Homo sapiens: one gene and its partners. The protein of the gene in region 4 purifies or fractionates together with the protein of the main gene of each other region. This does not show direct contact. Each region holds a gene or a part of one and is shown on either strand. Other genes may lie near its edges.

What was found.
Region 1: the proteins of HBS1L (region 4) and LRRC46 purify together in Homo sapiens (co-immunoprecipitation; one large-scale study listed by IntAct). This does not show direct contact.
Region 2: the proteins of HBS1L (region 4) and GIGYF2 purify together in Homo sapiens (affinity purification with mass spectrometry, with the first as the bait; one large-scale study listed by BioGRID). This does not show direct contact.
Region 3: the proteins of HBS1L (region 4) and EXOSC10 purify together in Homo sapiens (affinity purification with mass spectrometry, with the first as the bait; one large-scale study listed by BioGRID). This does not show direct contact.

What each region holds. Positions count from the first base shown.
Region 1 is NC_000017.11:47,834,670-47,838,219, forward strand, and holds the end of LRRC46 (leucine-rich repeat-containing protein 46), read left to right. Parts: intron 1-683; coding exon 684-730; intron 731-996; coding exon 997-1,106; intron 1,107-1,363; coding exon 1,364-1,433; intron 1,434-1,663; coding exon 1,664-1,806; intron 1,807-2,080; coding exon 2,081-2,451; 3' UTR 2,452-3,050; downstream 3,051-3,550. Other genes in the region: SCRN2 (secernin-2), read right to left, coding at 3,175-3,333. UniProt on the Homo sapiens protein: Required for normal spermatogenesis and male fertility. Plays an important role in sperm flagellum biogenesis.
Region 2 is NC_000002.12:232,786,618-232,792,093, forward strand, and holds part of GIGYF2 (GRB10-interacting GYF protein 2), read left to right. Parts: intron 1-532; coding exon 533-712; intron 713-4,080; coding exon 4,081-4,298; intron 4,299-4,390; coding exon 4,391-4,553; intron 4,554-4,640; coding exon 4,641-4,829; intron 4,830-5,476. UniProt on the Homo sapiens protein: Key component of the 4EHP-GYF2 complex, a multiprotein complex that acts as a repressor of translation initiation. In the 4EHP-GYF2 complex, acts as a factor that bridges EIF4E2 to ZFP36/TTP, linking translation repression with mRNA decay.
Region 3 is NC_000001.11:11,065,063-11,069,790, reverse strand, and holds the end of EXOSC10 (exosome complex component 10), read left to right. Parts: intron 1-60; coding exon 61-232; intron 233-1,084; coding exon 1,085-1,146; intron 1,147-1,706; coding exon 1,707-1,783; intron 1,784-3,042; coding exon 3,043-3,073; 3' UTR 3,074-3,173; downstream 3,174-4,728. UniProt on the Homo sapiens protein: Catalytic component of the RNA exosome complex which has 3'->5' exoribonuclease activity and participates in a multitude of cellular RNA processing and degradation events.
Region 4 is NC_000006.12:134,964,323-134,969,798, forward strand, and holds part of HBS1L (HBS1-like protein), read right to left. Parts: intron 5,017-5,476; coding exon 4,916-5,016; intron 2,152-4,915; coding exon 2,007-2,151; exon of another isoform or gene 2,004-2,006; intron 969-2,003; coding exon 957-968; 3' UTR 1-956. UniProt on the Homo sapiens protein: GTPase component of the Pelota-HBS1L complex, a complex that recognizes stalled ribosomes and triggers the No-Go Decay (NGD) pathway.

The DNA of each region.
Region 1 (3,550 bases), on a different chromosome or scaffold from region 4:
ACGAATGACATAGGGTCCTGAATTGAAAAACTAATTCCCTCAAAATAGATCCTGAACATGACCTGTGCTCCTTCCACTGTTCTTTAGGCACTTCTCTTGATCTAGAAGTTCTTTTTGGCATCTACTCTAAATCTTTCACGTTAAATAGCTCCAGCCCATTTCCTGTTTTGAAGAAGAGGAAACTATGAAGATTCCTGTACATCATTCAGATCCTACTTGAAGGCTGTTTGGTGGTGGTGGTGGTGGTTGGTTGATCTTCAGCCTTCCCCTGGTTGAGTATTCCCAGCTCGCTTCAACTTTCCCCATAGAAACTTTAACCGTCAAGTTCCTGTATGCTCATTGTTCTCTCTGTGTATGCAAGCCACCACCAAGGCCCTTTCCGTTTTCCTGGTGGCTTCTTAGTTTCCTTTTCTGATTCCCAGGTCACTCTTTGGTTGTGGAATCAGAAGAGTATACGTAGTCAGGTTTAGATACCCCAGGTTTACACCCTTAACCATCCACATGGGGAAAGAAAATCATCTTTCTTAAGGTAGTGGCAACCTGTTCAAGGAGTGGGGTGATCATTCCCAAAGTGCCAGATCTCCAGCTGCAGAGTAGACATGGTCTTGGGGCTTTGTCCCCGTAAAGGGCCCCTGACGCATCTGATCTCAGCTTGGTTTCCCCACTTCGGTTTCTTCTTGCAGAATAAGATCCAGCAAATTGAGAACCTGGCTTGCATCCCCTCCTTGCGGTATGTGGTGCCAGGGCTCAGGCAGGGGAAGAGGGGTTGGGGGAACCTAGCCATATCCCAAAGAACTGGTTCAGATTTCTCCAAGCCTGGGTCCTTGTCAGTCAAGGACCAGCAAGCCTAGATCTACTCCCTCACCCCAGAAGGCCATGTGTCCCCACTGGTCATCAGCTGCCTAGCCCAGGGGCCCCGGTGTCAGGTGCCCTCCTCTTTTCTTCCAGCTGTTCCATGATTCAGCTCTGCCTCTGTACCCCTTCCTTCCCCTACAGCTTCCTGTCTCTGGCAGGAAACCAAATCAGGCAGGTGGAAAACCTCCTCGACCTCCCATGCCTCCAGTTTCTGGACCTTTCTGAGAACCTGATAGAAACATTGAAGCTGGGTAGGAACCCACTCGCCCTGGCTCACCAAACACATCCCCTGTGGGGCCTGCCCTCCCCTCTGCACCCATCTGCCCATGCTTCTATTAGCCATGCCCCTGCAGGTCCACATTTCATCCTCAGGGAGTTCAAGGGGTTGTGCCTAGAGGTACTGGCTTTGGACTAGAAAGTGGGTATGAGAACCCCATTCCCATCGCTTCATGGTCTTTTGGCTAAGATCAAGTGAGAACCCCATTTCCTCTCTCTTTGCTGTGTGCAGATGAGTTCCCCCAGAGCCTTCTCATCCTCAACCTGTCTGGAAACAGCTGCACCAACCAGGATGGCTACCGGTAAGGAGTGGAGGGTGGGAAGAAAGGTCATGGCTGAGCTCTACCTGCTAACTCAGCCCAGACCCCTCTCAGCCTGCAAACCTGGGGTCCTGTCCATGACACCTTCTCCCCCACCTCCTACCTAGCTCATGAGCCACCACCCCTCCGGGTGTGAGTGCTGTGGTGCGTGTCTTTGCATCCTCCACGCCAGGGTGCCCTCCTGGGTAACCTCTGCTCCTTCTGCTCTGCAGCGAGCTGGTGACAGAAGCCCTGCCACTTCTCCTGGACCTGGACGGGCAGCCTGTGGTGGAGCGCTGGATTTCGGATGAGGAGGATGAAGCCTCAAGCGATGAGGAGTTCCCAGAGCTGAGTGGCCCATTCTGCTCAGAACGAGGTGACCCTGCTTTCCAAGGTTTTCAGCCTCCCCAGAGCCCACCTCTGCCCTGTGGGACATGAGGGAAGCTAAGGTGGCAGTGGCGTCCGGGGAGGGGAGCCCCAAGTTCAGATCAACATCTGGGCCAGAGCCAGGTGTCAGTCCTGGGCCCCAGCCTCAGGCTCCTTCCCACAAGGGACAAGGGGCCAGCCAGAGACTTCCCTGAGCCCAGGGACCCTCCTGCTGAGCCCAGGGCTCCACCCACCCTGTACCCTCCACCCCCGGCCCCTCCCAGGCTTCCTCAAGGAGCTGGAGCAGGAGCTGAGCAGGCACAGGGAGCACCGGCAACAGACGGCCCTGACAGAGCACCTGCTGAGGATGGAGATGCAGCCCACCCTCACCGACCTGCCCCTGCTACCTGGGGTGCCCATGGCTGGGGACAGCAGCCCTTCTGCCACTCCTGCGCAAGGGGAGGAGACAGTCCCTGAGGCCGTCTCCTCACCCCAGGCCTCCTCTCCCACCAAGAAACCATGCAGTCTGATTCCCAGGGGCCACCAAAGCTCTTTCTGGGGAAGGAAGGGGGCACGAGCAGCCACAGCCCCCAAGGCCTCTGTGGCTGAGGCCCCCAGCACAACCAAAACTACGGCCAAGAGAAGCAAGAAATGATTCTCTGTCAACCTTTCTCTACTAGTGGAGAGGAGTGGGGCCTGCCCCTCTTCTCAGACCTCTGACCTGTGACAGAAGCCCATCCCCAGTAAAGTGTCTCTAGGCCCTGAGTATGCTTTTCATGTCACTTGGGGTATCTCAGGGGAAGAAACCAGTGAAAGCTCCAGGAAACAAAATACAGAGCTCAGTGAGCCACCTGATTCTAAAGAGCGAGTCTGGAATCTTTCGGGAGCTACCCACAGGGCAGGCATGCCTCAGGCCCCCGCTGGCTTCCTGGCTCCCACTTGGGCAGGAAGCGGGCACCACCTCATGGAAGAGGCATGCCATCTCACTGCCACCCCTAGCGAGTGCCCTTCCCCGGTCCAAGCCAAGGACCAAGGAGCTGTGGTCCTAGTCATCCCCAACAGCAGCCAGCTCCTGTCCCCTCCCTGTCCTCCTGCCCAGTCCCCATCACTCACCCACTCATAGGAATGAGTACACAACCACAGGCCCCGCAGCCAGCCCACAGCTGCCTTTGGGCCTCACTTGGCTCTCCCACCCCCACTGGTCCTGGGATAAAGTTCACTGAAGAGAAAATAAAGCACATTTATTAAGGCAAAGGCCAAGCTGGCCGCTCAGAACATGGCCAAGGAGCGTGAAGGGATTGCTCCACTTTACCACCACTCAGGGCACCCAGGCCCCAGGGGTCCTGGGTCCACCCCAGGCCAGCAGAAGCTATGAAGCTTACGCATAAGCCTGGCTCTCCCTCTTCACGAAGGCCTGGAAGAGGCTGCCCAGCTCCCAGAGGGGTGGGGCCCACTCGCCGGCCAGCAGCCCCTGTGTGGCCTCGAGGCCTTCCTGCTCCAGATCCTGCTGTTTCTGCTGGAGCTGCTGCCCCCGATCCTGCCCCAAGGGAAAGCTGAGATGAGTCTGTCCGGGACAGGCTTCCCGCCAGGTGAAGGGGGGACTGTGTACCACCTCACACAAGCAGGAGAAAGGAGATACCCCCCGACATTCCCCAAAGGCAGTTGCTGGCTTTGAAGGGAGGAACTCCTCTCCCCAGCTCTGAAATCTCTTCCACTCCCTAGTTCCTTCATATTTCCAGAGTCCCACTGGGAGT
Region 2 (5,476 bases), on a different chromosome or scaffold from region 4:
TGTTGGTTATATAAAGTATGTTGTATGATGAAAAATATCTTATAACTTTAAAAAGTATGTGCTAGTAAGGAAGGATTGGCAAGATACACTGTTAGTGAAAACAGCAAACAAAACAACATTTATAACATCCTGAGGGTGGCGTTTGTGTGTGTGGATGAGGGAGCTATGTATACATGTGTAAGTGTACCCATGGACAGTGTTTGGAAAGACTTTATAAGAAACTTGGTGATGGTTCCTTCTGGGGAGTACGACTCTGAGGGTCTTGTGTAGGAAGATGGACTTTTCATTGTACGCTTTTTCAAAAAAAATTTTACATAATATTTTTGTTTAAAAAAATTGCCCAGTCTCTGAACATGGCTTTAAGAAATGTGTCTAATAATATATACATATACCCACTGTTATTTTAGTGATTTTTTTCTGAATATTGAAATGGACCCATTTGCAGGAAAGCTTGATTTGAGCTGTGAAGTTTGTTTTCAAAGCCTATACTGGCAGAGGCTCATGTTTACTTACCATATTATTTTCTTTATAGGGAGACCAAATTTTGAGGAAGGTGGACCAACATCAGTAGGGAGAAAGCATGAATTTATACGCTCAGAAAGTGAAAATTGGCGCATCTTTAGAGAGGAACAAAATGGAGAAGATGAAGATGGAGGTTGGCGACTAGCTGGATCAAGGAGGGATGGAGAGAGGTGGCGACCTCACAGTCCTGGTAAGAATTCTGTTGAGTAAAGGCACACAGGGACTGAAATAAGGGAAAGTTTGATGGAAATAGGGATTAAATGAAAAAGATAAACTGGCTTAAAAAATGTGGGGGTGGATTCATATTATTTATGCTGTCACAGTTTTATTACTAGAAAAAATTGCAACATAAAAATTTCCTACATCTATTCAGTTGATTGAAATCACTTTTCTATTTTTCTGGGGCAAATAGTGTAGTTTAATGGGAAGCACCTGCGCTCAACTGCAGAAATGAGGGTTTCATTCAGTTTTGTCTACCTCTAAATCTCTGAATCTTTTTTAGCATTCTTTAAGATTTATAAATGTGTAAAAATTACACACTTGAAATATGTGCTTCCCTCCCCAACAATGAGTGTTTTTCCTAACAAGAAAGGGTTTATTCTTTCATTTTTTCCCTTTTGAAAATGTGATTTAACCTTATTTGAAGAATAAGCTTTAAACCTAGGTCAGAAACATAATCACAAGTTCATTCTTATGTCCTTCTAACTTTAGAAGAAGGAGAGACAATAGTAGTGATTAGTGGCTTTTAAAGTTCTTCTGTTTGTCTCTTAAAAATGCTCAAACTGTTCTTCTTGGACATTAGATATGCTAGTAATTGAAGACACTAGTGCTTTGTGTTAAAGTTCATCCTGTACCACAGTGCTGATTCCATGCCTCATGATAATCAGATGCAACTGTAGTTCCAATTGTGGGGTCATGCAAAACTGAAGCACACAGAGTATATGTGGAATGCCCTATGAATTTCATGTGTATGACAGTATTTTATCAACCATGTGCCAGAGGGGCTTACCTTTAATACAGGAAATTATGATAAGTAAACTGTTTTCACTTTTAAAAATCAAGTTATTAGCAAAACCACTAGCTTAGATCTGGGTAGACATTATAACAGGCATTCAGAGTATTTTAAGGAAGTGGTAGGTAGATAGAAACATACTGAAGTTAATGTTTGGGTAGAGTTAGGATGGTTTTATACCAACTCTTCATGGCTGCCTCTTGGGTGGGTTTTCTGTCATTAGTGGGCATTGTTTACATCACAAGGTCTAGACAATTTTCATTAGTCTGTGACCTGGGCCAGATGTTATAGTTCTCTAAAAGGCATCACTGCATTTTATGCTGAGCTTGTCCGTAGGCAGAGGGTTTGTAGACTATGTTCCCAACAAGCATTCAGTGAAGAATGGATAGGATCTGGGCTGAGAGAGAAAAGAAATTCCAGCTGGTCAAAAACAAACAAGGTGAATGTTTTGGAAGATGAACTGTGTTTTTTGAGCCCAAATGTCTGATGTTGATTCTATTAAAGGGAGTTTAACAAAGTACCTCCCACCCAACAACTTAGAATTTGGTTATATATTATCTTCTTCTCATCTTTTCTGAATCTTTCTTTCCCCCTAATATTTGACTTTCATATCATTTTTGTCATCAACTTGTGTATCTTCCAGAACTTTTAATCCATATACATATATATTTTTTCAGTCACACCTGTGGCTGAAATCCATATATTTTTAAAAGACAGTTTGGGGGATATAAAGATCCCCCAAATATAAAGTTTGGGTCTGAAAAAACAGTGTAAATGCATTTTAAAAAAGAATACGATTCACTTTTTAAACCCAGTATATTCAAAGTATAGCCTGATTATAGCAGTTTTCATATGTTAACTCTTAACGTTTGTTAGTTTATGGTTAATCTTTTATTAAGATTTGAGTAAAACTTTAAATTATTTTAACTGATTTTATGAAAATAGTATCCAACTTTAGTTTAGATGTAGGGTCTGTAAATCAGCAGTCAGCCTTAATAAGTACCTTGCATGTCTTACTTGCTATGTTTAGTTTCGTGAGTAAAATTTTATGAACTACTGATAAGATAACATTATGGGATATAAAATAGGGCTTCCGGCTGGATGTGCGTGGGGGTGGGAACATTAAGGACAGGGAGGCATCCAGTCTGGGAGCTGAACCTAGGAAAGTCAGTAAGAGGAGAAACATGAGCCAGGTACCTAGAAGGATAGATTCCTGTCATGATGTACATTTAGACTGTTAGAAATGAAAGCAGTACAGAGGGCTCTGGAATTCATTTGATCATGAAGACTCTTTTCACATAATGGCTCTAGGTTTCCACGTAAGCAGTCTGAGTATAAAATTCCTTAGTTCTCATAGGAAGTAGTAAATAGTGTTTTGTTGTTTTTATATGAAGGGATGGGAGTGTGGGACTAAGATTTCTTTTTTGTGAGTGGCTTATCAGATGCTACCTGTATTTGGCATTTTAACGTTTTGCCCTTTGTTTTCCAATTTGATTTTTAGATTGCTGGTTTTTGCAAAGTTTGTCTCAATAGTGAGAACATTTAACTCTGGCCACATTTCTTTTTCTTATCCCCCACAGAGAAAGCAGTCAAGGATGGAAAATTCTAATAGGTTAAAGCCTGCTTTTCTTTTTAAGACTCTTTTAGACTCAGGTCTGTCAGATTTTAGCAAGAGTTTCCCTTTCTTTTTTTTAGAAAAATATCTTAAGTAGGATCTCTTATTATTAGGCAATCTTTTCTTCTGTTGGGAAATGTAGATTTGGGAATGTCCGTAGGGGTATTATATGGATAGGGAGAATTAAGAGATGAGAAAGAAGGGAGAGGAGTAAGTATGTTATTGTGGAACAAGCAGCAGAGGGTGCAGAATTGGATTTTAGTTCTACTTTGCCATGTGCGAGTTACTTCTGCTGGCAAAGTTTTAGTTTCTTCTTAAACTATAAAATTAGGATAGTGAACTTCATAAAATCTCTGTGACAACTTTCAGCACTGTAATTTTGTGAATTTTTGGGGGAGGATCAGAATTACAAGTGGGAACCTGGCATTAATAAATAGTCATGATGAGTTTGATATAAGTCAACACAGGGAGCTGATTTTATCCACAAACAATGATATTTTCATGGGAAGAAAGAAAATGCTTTAAGATTGGGCAAAAGGAAGGTGTAAACTTCAGTATGGAAGGATGTCTAGTGCATTAAGTCTGGATGAGGAGTTGGCGGCTAATCAGTATTTTAATCAAGTACCTAGGACTTACTGAAAGTGCGTACTTGGAATACAGTGTCCTTTAAATGTACTGCATTTTAGATTTATCTTTTAAAGCTTTAGAGTATGTTGCCTGGCTCAGTACTTAAGTACTGTTGTCATCTCGTAATGGTACATATACTCTGAACTCTGAACTTCATTTAGTTGCCTAATGTTCTCTTTACTAGGTCAGTCCATTTGAGTTTGCGGTCACTTGTAGTTTTCTCCTTTATTTTCTATTCCTGATTTTCTTATTCAAATACTGTCATAAAACTTTTCTAAGGTTTGTGTCCTCCTTCTCATCTCAGATGGCCCTCGTTCTGCAGGCTGGCGGGAACACATGGAACGACGTCGGAGGTTTGAGTTTGATTTTCGAGATAGAGATGATGAACGGGGTTACCGAAGGGTTCGCTCTGGCAGTGGGAGCATAGATGATGACAGGGATAGCTTGCCCGAATGGTGCTTAGAGGATGCTGAAGAAGAAATGGGTACATTTGACTCATCTGGAGCATTCCTTTCTCTAAAAGTAAGAAACGTGTTTTAAATGTCATGACCAGCATTAACCTTATACCAAAGCCAAATCTGCTGTTGATCTTTGGTTTTATTCTCTTTCTACAGAAAGTACAGAAAGAGCCTATTCCAGAAGAGCAGGAGATGGACTTCCGGCCTGTGGACGAAGGGGAGGAGTGCTCTGACTCTGAGGGTAGCCATAATGAAGAGGCCAAAGAACCCGATAAGACAAATAAGAAAGAAGGAGAGAAAACAGATAGAGTAGGAGTTGGTAAGGCCTCTTCTTGCCCTTTGCCTTTTTTTTCCTCCATCAAACCAAAACTTTCGTAAGTTCAACTAAGATTACTTCGTGTTCCAGAAGCTAGTGAGGAAACTCCCCAGACCTCATCATCATCTGCTAGACCAGGTACTCCTTCAGACCATCAGTCTCAGGAAGCATCACAGTTTGAGAGGAAAGATGAACCAAAAACTGAGCAAACGGAAAAAGCTGAAGAGGAGACTCGGATGGAAAATAGTCTACCAGCCAAAGTGCCCAGCAGAGGGGATGGTATGTATTTGTGGGAATAGACAAGCTAAAATAGGATTCTGCTGAGGCCAGTGATCACTGATAAGTTAGGCTTCTGCTTATGCCTCCTAGAACTGCTTTTAGTGGGTGAATTATCGGAATAGATTATTTTACCAGTAAACCCAGTCAAACAGTGCTTCTCACGTATGTGTCCATCTCAGAATTACCAAAACAGAGTTCGAATCTGCAAGGGTGGAGCTCTGGAATCTCATGTCCTAAGGTGTTATGACATAGCCACCCTGTCATTACTGGTGAACTGGGTGTCATAGCCTTTGCATTAGTTTGATTCCCGTATTAGACAGTTACCTTCCTTTCATGTGTTGACTAATTATGTGCCCAGCTTAAATTACCAGATGACACACCAAAATGCCATTTTTCTAAAAGAGGACAAGTAGAGAACATATGTGAATCTGTGGCAGAATAAGCTTAAAACATATCTCTTTCAGTTGTTAGTGTATTGGTTTAAGTTGCTCATACACTTTATTAGGCAATATTAATGCTCATTTCCATGTTTCTTCTTGTACGTATTTAAAAATGTCATTGTAATGCCTGACGTTGAAGGGTTACTTGATTCATTTACCATAAAAATTGATACCCTTTAACATGGCATATGAGACACTGCACAATCT
Region 3 (4,728 bases), on a different chromosome or scaffold from region 4:
GGAGTTCCCTGTTCCCATGTGCCTCCCTGTTCCTCCCCCACATCTGTTCCTGATCTACAGCTAGAAAATGCTGCAAAGAAGAGAGAGCGAGCAACAAGCGACCCAAGGACCACAGAACAGAAACAAGAGAAGAAACGACTCAAAATTTCCAAGAAGCCAAAGGACCCAGAGCCACCAGAAAAAGAGTTTACGCCTTACGACTACAGCCAGTCAGACTTCAAGGCTTTTGCTGGTGAGGAAGTAATGGGGCCCCATACAGGGACATCTGTGCGCGTCAGAGGGGAGGAAGCCATAAAGAGACCACAATATAGGGGCCAAGTGAGTCCTGCACAAGGCATGGTGCTAGCCAGGAATTGTTGGAGTAGTCCAGAGAGGCCGTGGCAATGTGGACAGTCGCCTGCAGCCTCATTACCACCTCCTCCATGGGAGCTCAACTCATGGTGGCCTCCATGGTGGGTTAGCAAGATCACCTGTCACTTCCACTGTGACCAGGGCGCCATCCTTCCTCACTATAACTTGTGCCCATAAACCCTCTCTCTCTCTCTCACACACACACACACACAGAATTTTGTTTGTTGAAAAATCTCAAAGCCTATGACATGAACCCCTATGGCTGCTTGGGCTGTGAGAGTCCGTCTGCTTTGAAGGGGCTACAGATGGCATTCTCGACTCTAGCAGCCTTCGGAGCAACATGCTCCTTTGGAAAAGAGAAAGCAGAGGCCAGTCCACACAATGGCCCTTTATACAGGAGTGTCGCCTCAGAGCCCGAGTTCCTTATGGCATCACCCAGCACAGAGATCAGAATGGATTTCCTTATGTGCGGGGGCCACTGCTGTAGCCACCTGCCCCTAAGGTCCTGGGACTAGAGCTGAGAGAAATGGGCCTGGTTTTCAGACTGCCCACAGGGACCAGGATCGCTATGTATTCATTTATGTGAGCCATGAGCCCTAGCCCCTCATCGTGACAGGGGTGCTCTCACAGCCAAGGCTTCCCTGAGTGTCATGGTCCCGGCCTCGCTGTGAGCCTGTGATGTGTGGTAACTCATTGACCTGACCGCAGGTCTCTCTCATCTCTTACCTTTCAGGAAACAGCAAATCCAAAGTTTCTTCTCAGTTTGATCCAAATAAACAGACCCCGTCTGGCAAGGTAAGAACTGCTCCTGGAGGATTTTAGCACGCTGGTGGCGCCTGTTTCTGACCTCCTCCTCTGCTGAGAAGACAGGCCCATCCAGGAGTCCATTCCTTTGCATATCTTTTTCCTCACCTCATTTCTTCCCAAGGGCAGACAGTACTGATCAGCTACCCCAGCAACTCATAAAACGAGGCTGTAAAAGCTGGCATGTGGCTTTAAAGGGTATTATTCTGTGTTTGCTACCATGGGAACTATAGCTGCAGGCCAAAAGCACCCCCTTTGGGGCCAGCACAAGCCTGCATTCACCCCTCGTGGGTGTTGGTGCTGGTGCCAGGGAAACAGCGTGGCTGTAGCTTCCACAGGCGCGGGGGCAGGGCTGCTTTGGGGTGCTCCTGTTCCTCTTGCAGCGCATCCTGGCGGCCTTGCCTTCAGAGACACAGAAACATCCTCTCTCAGGGGATCTAAAGTCACTCCTGTGCTGCTAGAATCTTTGGCCACCTGAGCTCAGGTGTGTTTTTCTGTGTATCTTGTGGTCAAGGTGCCCACCCAGCTTAAACGGTTTCTTTTCTTTTCAGAAATGCATTGCAGCCAAAAAAATTAAACAGTCGGTGGGAAACAAAAGCATGTCCTTTCCAACTGGAAAGTCAGACAGGTATGTGGTGGACGGCGGTGTGGCCCAGGGAGCCCAGTGAGAAAGCACCTGCCCTGCGTGGTGTGGTCCGTGGGGAGTAGCTGGGGAGCGAGTGTCCAGGGGTCTTCAACCAGGATGACTCAGAGAACCTCCCACAGCCAGGTCCCTCACGCCACTCGGAAAACAAGGGCGGGAGGTGATTTGCTCTGTGCCATACATCACAGAGCCAGGCACTGCACCCCAGGACTCAGATTCCCCTTGTTCCTGGCTCTCTAGTTACCGTGTGTCCTGGGGTCACCTCAGGGAAAATAGGTGTAAATAGTTGTGAAATTTTCCTGGACCAGCCTATTAGGAATGAGGAAAAAGTAAGCACATGTGGGTTATCCTTGTTGTTGAAGAGTGGTTTGGCTTGGTTTGGTTTTGTTTTGTGAGAGTCTCATTCTGTCACCCAGGCTGGAGTGCAGTGGCACAATCTCAGCTCACTGCAACCTCCACCTCCTGGGTTCAAGCAAGTCTCTCACCTCAGCCTCCCGAGTAGCTGGGATTACAGGTGCCTGCCATCATGCCCGGCTAATGTTTTTTTTTTTTTTCTTCTTTGAGATGGAGTCTCGGTCTGTCGCCCAGGCTGGAGTGCAGTGGCACGATCTCTGCTCACTGCAAGCTGCGCCTCCCGGGTTCACGCCATTCTCCTGCCTCAGCCTCTCGAGTAGCTGGGACCACAGGCGCCCGCCATGATGCCCGGCTAATTTTTTGTATTTTTTAGTAGAGACGGGGTTTCACCATGTTAGCCAGGATGGTCTCGATCTCCTGACCTTGTGATCCGCCCGCCTCGGCCTCCCACAGTGCTGGGGTTACAGGCGTGAGCCACCGCGCCCGGCCTGTTTTTGTATTTTTAGTAGAGATGGGGTTTTGCCATGTTGGCCAGGCTGGTCTCAAACTCCTGGCCTCAATTGATCCTCCCGCCTTGGCCTCCCAGAGTACTGGGATTACAGGTGTGAGCCACTGCACCCAGCCAAATGTTTTTGTTAAAAACATAAAATCCTAATAATTAAGCCGACCCTGAGGTCAGGGGACTTGCCCGAGGGCAGGAAAAACAGGTCTGCCTTCTCAAGATGCTGCTCAGCTCAGCCAACTCTGGTGGGCCGCCGAGTTCTCTGGGGCCCCTGAGCAAACCATTCTTCCTCTGTTCTGCATGATTAAGATTTGCACCATTTTGTAAACCATCTGAGAACATCCAACCAGCCCGGAAGAAATAACTGTTGTTTTTGTACTCTCTGCAGAGGCTTCAGGTACAACTGGCCACAGAGATAGTCCTGGAAGACACGTGGCGCCTGTGGACCGGAAGCACCAAATGCTGGTGCTGCTTTTGTACATACATATTTTTAAACCATTAAAATTCTTCCTGAAGAAAGCTGATTCCTGACTTTTATTTTGTTGCCGCCACAGCTCTGGCAGGTTGCCATCCTGTTCAGGCAACCATCTTCAGCTGTCTGTGGGCAGGTGAGTGTGCTCCGGGGGTTATGGTGACTTCTAGAAAAATCCAGAGCCGGCCGGGTGCGGTGGCTCACGCCTGCAATCCCAGCACTTTGGGAGGCTGAGGCAGGCGGATCACGAGGTCAGGAGATCGAGACCATGCTGGCCAACACGGTGAAAGCCTTTCTCTACTAAAAATACAAAAAATTAGCCGGGCATGGTGGTGGACGCCTGTAATCCCAGCTACTCAGGAGGCTGAGGCAGGAGAATCGCTTGAACCTAGGAGGCGGAGGTTGCAGTGAGCCGAGATCACGCCACCTCATTTGAGCCTGGGCAGTAGAGCAAGACTCTGTCTCAAAAAAAAAGGCAAATGCAAAGAGAAAATTTTAATCATTTGTAGTCCTGTCACACAAAGATGCTTTTTTCCTTTTTTTGAGACAGGGTCTCACTCTGTTGCCCATTCTGGAGTGCAGTAGTGTGATCCTAGCTCACTGCAGCCTTGACCTCCCAGGCACATGCCACCACACCTGGGTAATTTTTCTTATGTTTTATAGAGATGGGGTCTTGCTGTGTTGCCCAGGCTGGTCTTGAACTCCTGGCCTCAAGCAATCCTCCTGTCTTGTCCTGCCAGTGTTGGGATTTCAGGCATGAGCCACCACACCCAGCTGAGATTAACATTTTGCTGTATTTCCTTATAAGCTTTCGCTATGTGTATATAGATATATTTTTAAAATATATCTTGGGTTCAGGTTTCTATCATTTGTCACCTTGAAAGTTTGTGTTATGACACTTTTCTCAATCTAAAATTTATTTTCGCCAACCCCCATTGTTAAACGCTTAGGTTTTCATTTTTGGTACTATTCTTAATAATGCAGCACTCACTAAACTTTTATATAAATTTGTGACCCAGTCTCTGATAATTTCTTTAGAACTTCATTTTATTTTAATCCTGAGATGGGCTAATAAATCAGGAAAGCACAAAATGCCATTACTTTGGTTTTTACAAATACTTAACCTAGAAACCTTTTTTCTTTGAAATTCATCCCACAAAGTATTGAGATTGCCAACTGTATATGATAACCTTTGGGGGGTACCAAGCCAAATCACACATCACTGCCGTCAGAGAGCTCCCACTCTTGAACAGCAGAGAACAGCCCTGTCCTAAGATAGGCTGGAGTTTGTTTTAGCTAGGACTAGACTGGTTGAAAATGACAGAAAAGCCAAACTATAGTGACTTTTAACAAGAGAGATGATTTTCCTCCTCTTTTGTAAACATAGTTGGCCCAGAGCTAGTGTGATGCTCATGATCATCAGACACAGGCTCCTATCTTGTTTTACCATCCTCAGCTCAAACACAAGGCTGCCGCCTCATGGTGCAGGGTGACTGCCCTTGCTCCAGCCATTACATTCTCATTCCAGTCTGCTGGAAGGAGGAAAGAACAGCACCCAATCTCTTTGAATAGGATACTGCCCATTTCAACTTCCCATTGGTC
Region 4 (5,476 bases):
GTTTGTTGTTGAAACTTTAAAGAAAAACATGACTCTTACTTACTCACAGGGGACTTATAATCTATAAGGTAAGCAAGATAAAGAAAGGGCCATCATAGGTATAATTCTAAAAGTGAGAATGGGAAAAGCAAGTTATGGTTAAAAAAATGAATGAGATGAAATTGGATCTGCCATTAGGATAAAAAAGAATTCATGTGACAGAGCTAGGAAACTCTTAGGTGAAAAAGATCCCACAAAACCCCTAAATCATATTTACTGTTAGTGGCAGAGAATCTCATAAATGTCTAAAGAACAAAACACAGTTTGTATTATGCTCAAACTAAGGCATTTTATTAGCTGGCTTTACAACTTAAATAATATCTTGGCTTTCAAAGGAACAGCTTCCACTAATTCCAAATTAAACTTTCACAAGTTTACTTGTTTGGGGAGGGACATTCTTATGGTCACCACAAAATACTTTTATTATAACCTTCCCCAAATCTTTTCTTAGCATTAACTGGAAAAAAAAAAAAAAAAAAAGCTTAGGTCAAATATCAACTGCCTGAAAAACCCAATTAAGTTACTTTTCCTTAAAACATGTGCAGTATAATTGAATCAAAAGAGAAAACTGCAAATACATTGTGCTTTGGCCAGAAGTAGAGTTCATTTCATGATGATTCAGTATCTTCAGATACTATTTTTGACACTTGCCATAAATCTTAGCAAAGTAAATCCATTTATTAACGTTTCAAAGGCAAAGTTGTTTTTAACATTAGACTTTCTTTGCCAGTTGGCAACTTAGAATTTTTGCAGAGGTGATTATTAATACTTCTTTGCAGCTAATTTTAGCTTTAATTTTTCTCTCTCATCTAAAAACATATCAATTGCACATTGTTCCTTTGACTTAATAACTGCATTCTTGAAACAGAGGTTAGCTATTTCACTGTATCCAGAAACGTGGTAGAAATTCTGACCCATCATTCTTTTATCTGTTAAAACAAAAAAAAAAAAGACATTTGCTGTAATTTAATCAATCACATTATAAGAACAACAAAGGGAAAATTATGGTGAAAGAATTATTATATCAAGAGAAAATCTTTTTCTTTGTCCTGCAACTTTCTTCCTTTCCTAGTCATGCCATTTCTGCAATTTACTATAATCTCTCCATTATTCTCCACAAATGACTCTATCTTATTTTTAGAATGCTCTTTTAGAAAGAATGCCTTGATAGATTAAATGTGATATTGATGGCAACGATATCAGCTACCAATATTGGATGCTTTTTATGTGCTGAGTGCTTTGCACGTTATCATTTCATTTCAACACAACTCTAGGAGGTAGATTCTATTATCCTATTTTTACACTGAAGGAGGTAAATTGAAGGAGAAATGCATTTATGCCGCTAAAAACTGGTGGAGCAAGAACACAAATGGGCAGTGTAACTCTGAAAGCTGTTTTCTTCACCTCCACCCCACACCGCCTTCCATATGTATTTTACTTAAATTATGTATATAGAGTTTCTTGGTGCTTTAGCAACTTAAAAGAAAGATTTTTCATGATATGTGTAACTCACTTTTGATGCAACTTAAAGTTTATGTTATATCCAATTAAATAAACTAGTTTTAGGCAGAAAACAATCATGTGGAGTAATGAAGTACCCTTTAAAATACAATATTCATAAGATTCATATTAATTATGATAGTGTAGAAGAAATTAAATCATTGAAATTTTCTGGTTCATTTCTGGCTGTTTTCTCCAGCAATTAGAATTTAATATAAATTCTAATTTCTTGTTCTAGTAGCATAACTGTGTTTCCTTTAAGGCATAAAATCTCACTGAAGATTTTACCAATCTTCCAAATATAACCCTATCCCTTAAAGGACCACTACAACCTAAAATGAGTAAGGCTTCTCCTAATCAATGCTTTTTCTTTCATTCCCTCAATGCTTTCTTTTCATTCCTAAAAGGTAAAAAAGAAAAGGCATCATAACTATGGATATATAATGAGTCACTTTAAAATAAAATACCTCAGTGACAACACCAGCAGCTATTGTAGAACCACCGTAACGTAGCATGAACCTCCCCAGCTCTTTAAAGTCTTTATATAGCTCAAGAGCTATTGGTCTTTGTGTCTGTAGCTCTACCAATGCATTCTGGCCTTTAGTCAAAAACCTATTAAGAAAAAAAAAGAACAAATGAATATATGATAGAGGTGAATAAATGTAATAATAACAACTTGAAAAACAAATATTTCACATTTAACCAACATATCAACTGAGTCTTTCAAAAACAAGAAAAATATTTTTTGAATGAAAATATATGTCTTTGGACTTTCTGCTTTAGTTGAAAGAAATGAGGAGTAATTCTAGATTTAAGAAACATTAGGTAGTTCATTTTTACCAATCTTCCAAATATAACTCTATCCCTTACGGGACCACTATAGCCTAAAATGCTTAAGGCCCCTCATCATGAAATAAATGCTTTTTCTTTCATTCCCTCAAGAAAGTGAGTTCAATTATCTAATAAAGAAAGTTATACTAAGGCTTATTTCTATAAAAAAGTATTTGCAAAGAGGAATATAATGCCCTATGTCTTTCCTAGTAAAACTGTAATTTATGGAATGTGTATTAGGAAGTTATCTGTGAAGAGGACAATCAATCTGTTGTTGCTAAGATTCCCCTCAATCAATCAAGCAATCTCTCTCTTTCCCCACACAGGAATAATAGTTCCTTAGCAGGAGTTCAGGACAAAAATCACATAAGTAGCTTTTCCACAATATGATACTTGTAAAATATGAAGGAAGACAGGGCATGGACCAGACTGTAAATGATTTCATAAAAATAAGTGAACAAAAATCTCTAGGCTAGGCCCTGCTCAGACTTAGTGAGAGAGGCAGAACCTAAAAAGGGACATTTTGGAATTGTTTTCTAATTTAATTTTTATGTACTCTAGAAGTATAGTGGACAGAAATCATAAACTCTCCTTTTGAAAGATAAGTTCAGGGGCAGACGACTAAAAGAAGGTTCTAAAAAAATACACCAAAAATTCCAAATATTGGTTTTGGACAATTTCAGGCTTAAGTTCATTCCTTAGGAAGGAGAGCATCTAATACATAAATGGCTTGTTCCTAATTTAGTTTCTAGAACATTAAATTCCATTCTGCATAAAGCAATCAAGAGCCTACAACGTGCCTGAACAGGAATGAAAGGGAAAGGCCAAACGGTTGTGCAAAATAAAAGGATAAAGCTACAAATAAGATGACAGGGAACACAAACACGAGAATATGTTAAACTCTACCATCATTGAGCTAGGATTTTGTAGCAGGAGCATGGAGGGGAAGACTCAGGATTATATATGATGAGCCAATTTCAGACTGAAAATTCTGTATCAGTTGTCTAGGTCAAACAACCTGGCTCCTGAACAAAAGAATATAATTTATGTAAACCAACTGACTAGGTTAGAATCCTGCCTCTACCACTTGAGCTTTGTGTCACTTGCTAGATGCTTCACAGGATTGCTAAGAATATACATTATGTGAAAGCATTCACAATACAGCCTAAAAATAGTGGTCCTCAAGAAATGTTAGTCATATAGTTATATCGTGTTTCTCAGAACATTATAGCAAACACTCATGCCACAAGCTAAAGACTCAGGTTAAATATAAAGATCTACCTTTAGGAGAGAGGTAAAGTAGCCCTTCCTCCTAACAGAGAAACAGGCAAGGGTTTAGAGCAATGTGAGATTTTCTCTTCTACTTGCAGTCAGCCTATTAACCCACTAACCACATTTGGCCTCTTCTGCAGGTGTAAAAGATGAGGAACACCAAGGACAGAAAAAAGGGGATTTGGGATGTTATTGGAAAAGAAGTTGGAAGGAAAACCCCAAAGCTAAAGCAGCCAAGCCAAACTGCAATTAGCCTTAACTTGGATTTGGGTAAGAAATCTTTTTTTTTTTTTCTTTTTTTTGAGATGGAGTTTCACTCTGTCACCCAGGCTGGAGTACAGTGGTGCGATCACCGCTCACTGCAACCTCCGCCCACCGGGTTCAAGAGATTCTCCTGCCTCAGCCTCCTGAGTAGCTGGGATTACAGGTGTGAGCCACCACACCCGGCTAATTTTTGTATTTTTAGTAGAGACGGGGTTTCGCCATGTTGGCCAAGCTGGTCTCAAACTCCAGACCTCAGGTGATCTGCCCGCCTTGGCCTCTCAAAGTGCTAGGATTACAGGCATGAGCCACTGTGCCTGGCCAAGAAATCTATTTTGTAACATTCATCTCTAGTCCTGTATTTTGTTTTTATTTACGTACTTAGTTTCTGAGGAAGTACTTAAAAAATCCCAATCTCGTCCTAGCCAAAGGGGAAGTGTCACACCTAAGCCTGGACATTAATGCTAATCAGCAGGCCCAACAGGATGCTGATCACCTCAACTTAAGGCTCCAGGTGGACTTTGAGCAAAAAAAAAAAAAAACAAACTTTCCAGATGGGAAAAGAGCAGGCACTACAGAGTGTATAGATTATTTTCTTCTTAGCTTAGCATAGGGAATGATCTTATTAAGGAGGTGACAAGAAAGTTAAACACGCAGTAGAAATTTGGAACCGGTGTCTAGACATATTTTTTTAAATGCCCTTATTTTCACATAATCAGTATCTATGGCTTGAAATGTACATACATATATAAGTTTATATTTACATTTATTTATAATTCACATCCTCCACCACCACACATAACAGAAATTATATCTAGTACCCATATCTAAACAAGAGCTTAAATACTTGCTTGTTTTTATGTTTGTTTTAATCTAGCCCTTGAAAAAATAATTTCTGGAACAAGTAAAAATGGGTTTCACTTACCACAAAGAGAAATACTACACAAATGAGTTAATCTTTAAAAAATTGGCTTAAATTGCTTGTTTATCATTTCTGTATTAAAACACTCACTTAGGCTTTTTCTTTGTGACTTCACCCGTGCTTTTGTTTAAGACACTAATCAATCGTTTAATAACGGCGGGTTCACTGACAGTTTGGTAGTGTAACAGCACCTAAAACAAAAAATTATAACACTAAAAATCTGCTACCACAGTATCTCTGGCCTTTTCTTTTGGCACTTATACTTAATTATCTTCAATTCAGTGCTACTGCTTGGAGTCTTTCAGGATCTCCAGTTGCTTCCTCTAAGTCCCACCACTCTAATCAGGTGGTTACTTAACTCACTAAGAGGAAAAAAGTCATGAGAGGCATTTCAAATTTCTACCCCACCAATTACTGCATCAACTTTAGTTCAGTGCATAACCTGTCAGCTTTTTCCTCTGTAAAGATGGAGGGTAACAACATCTTAGTGTTGTTCTAAAGATTAAGTAAGAGAATTCGTCATTTAGAACAAATGTTGTTGTCATTTTTATTATTACAAGTAGTAGTAGGGAAAGAACCTGGGATTGAATCTCAACTCTTTCTCTTCTGTCTGTACCTCAGTTTCCTCAAGTGTAAAATAAGTAGGCTTTT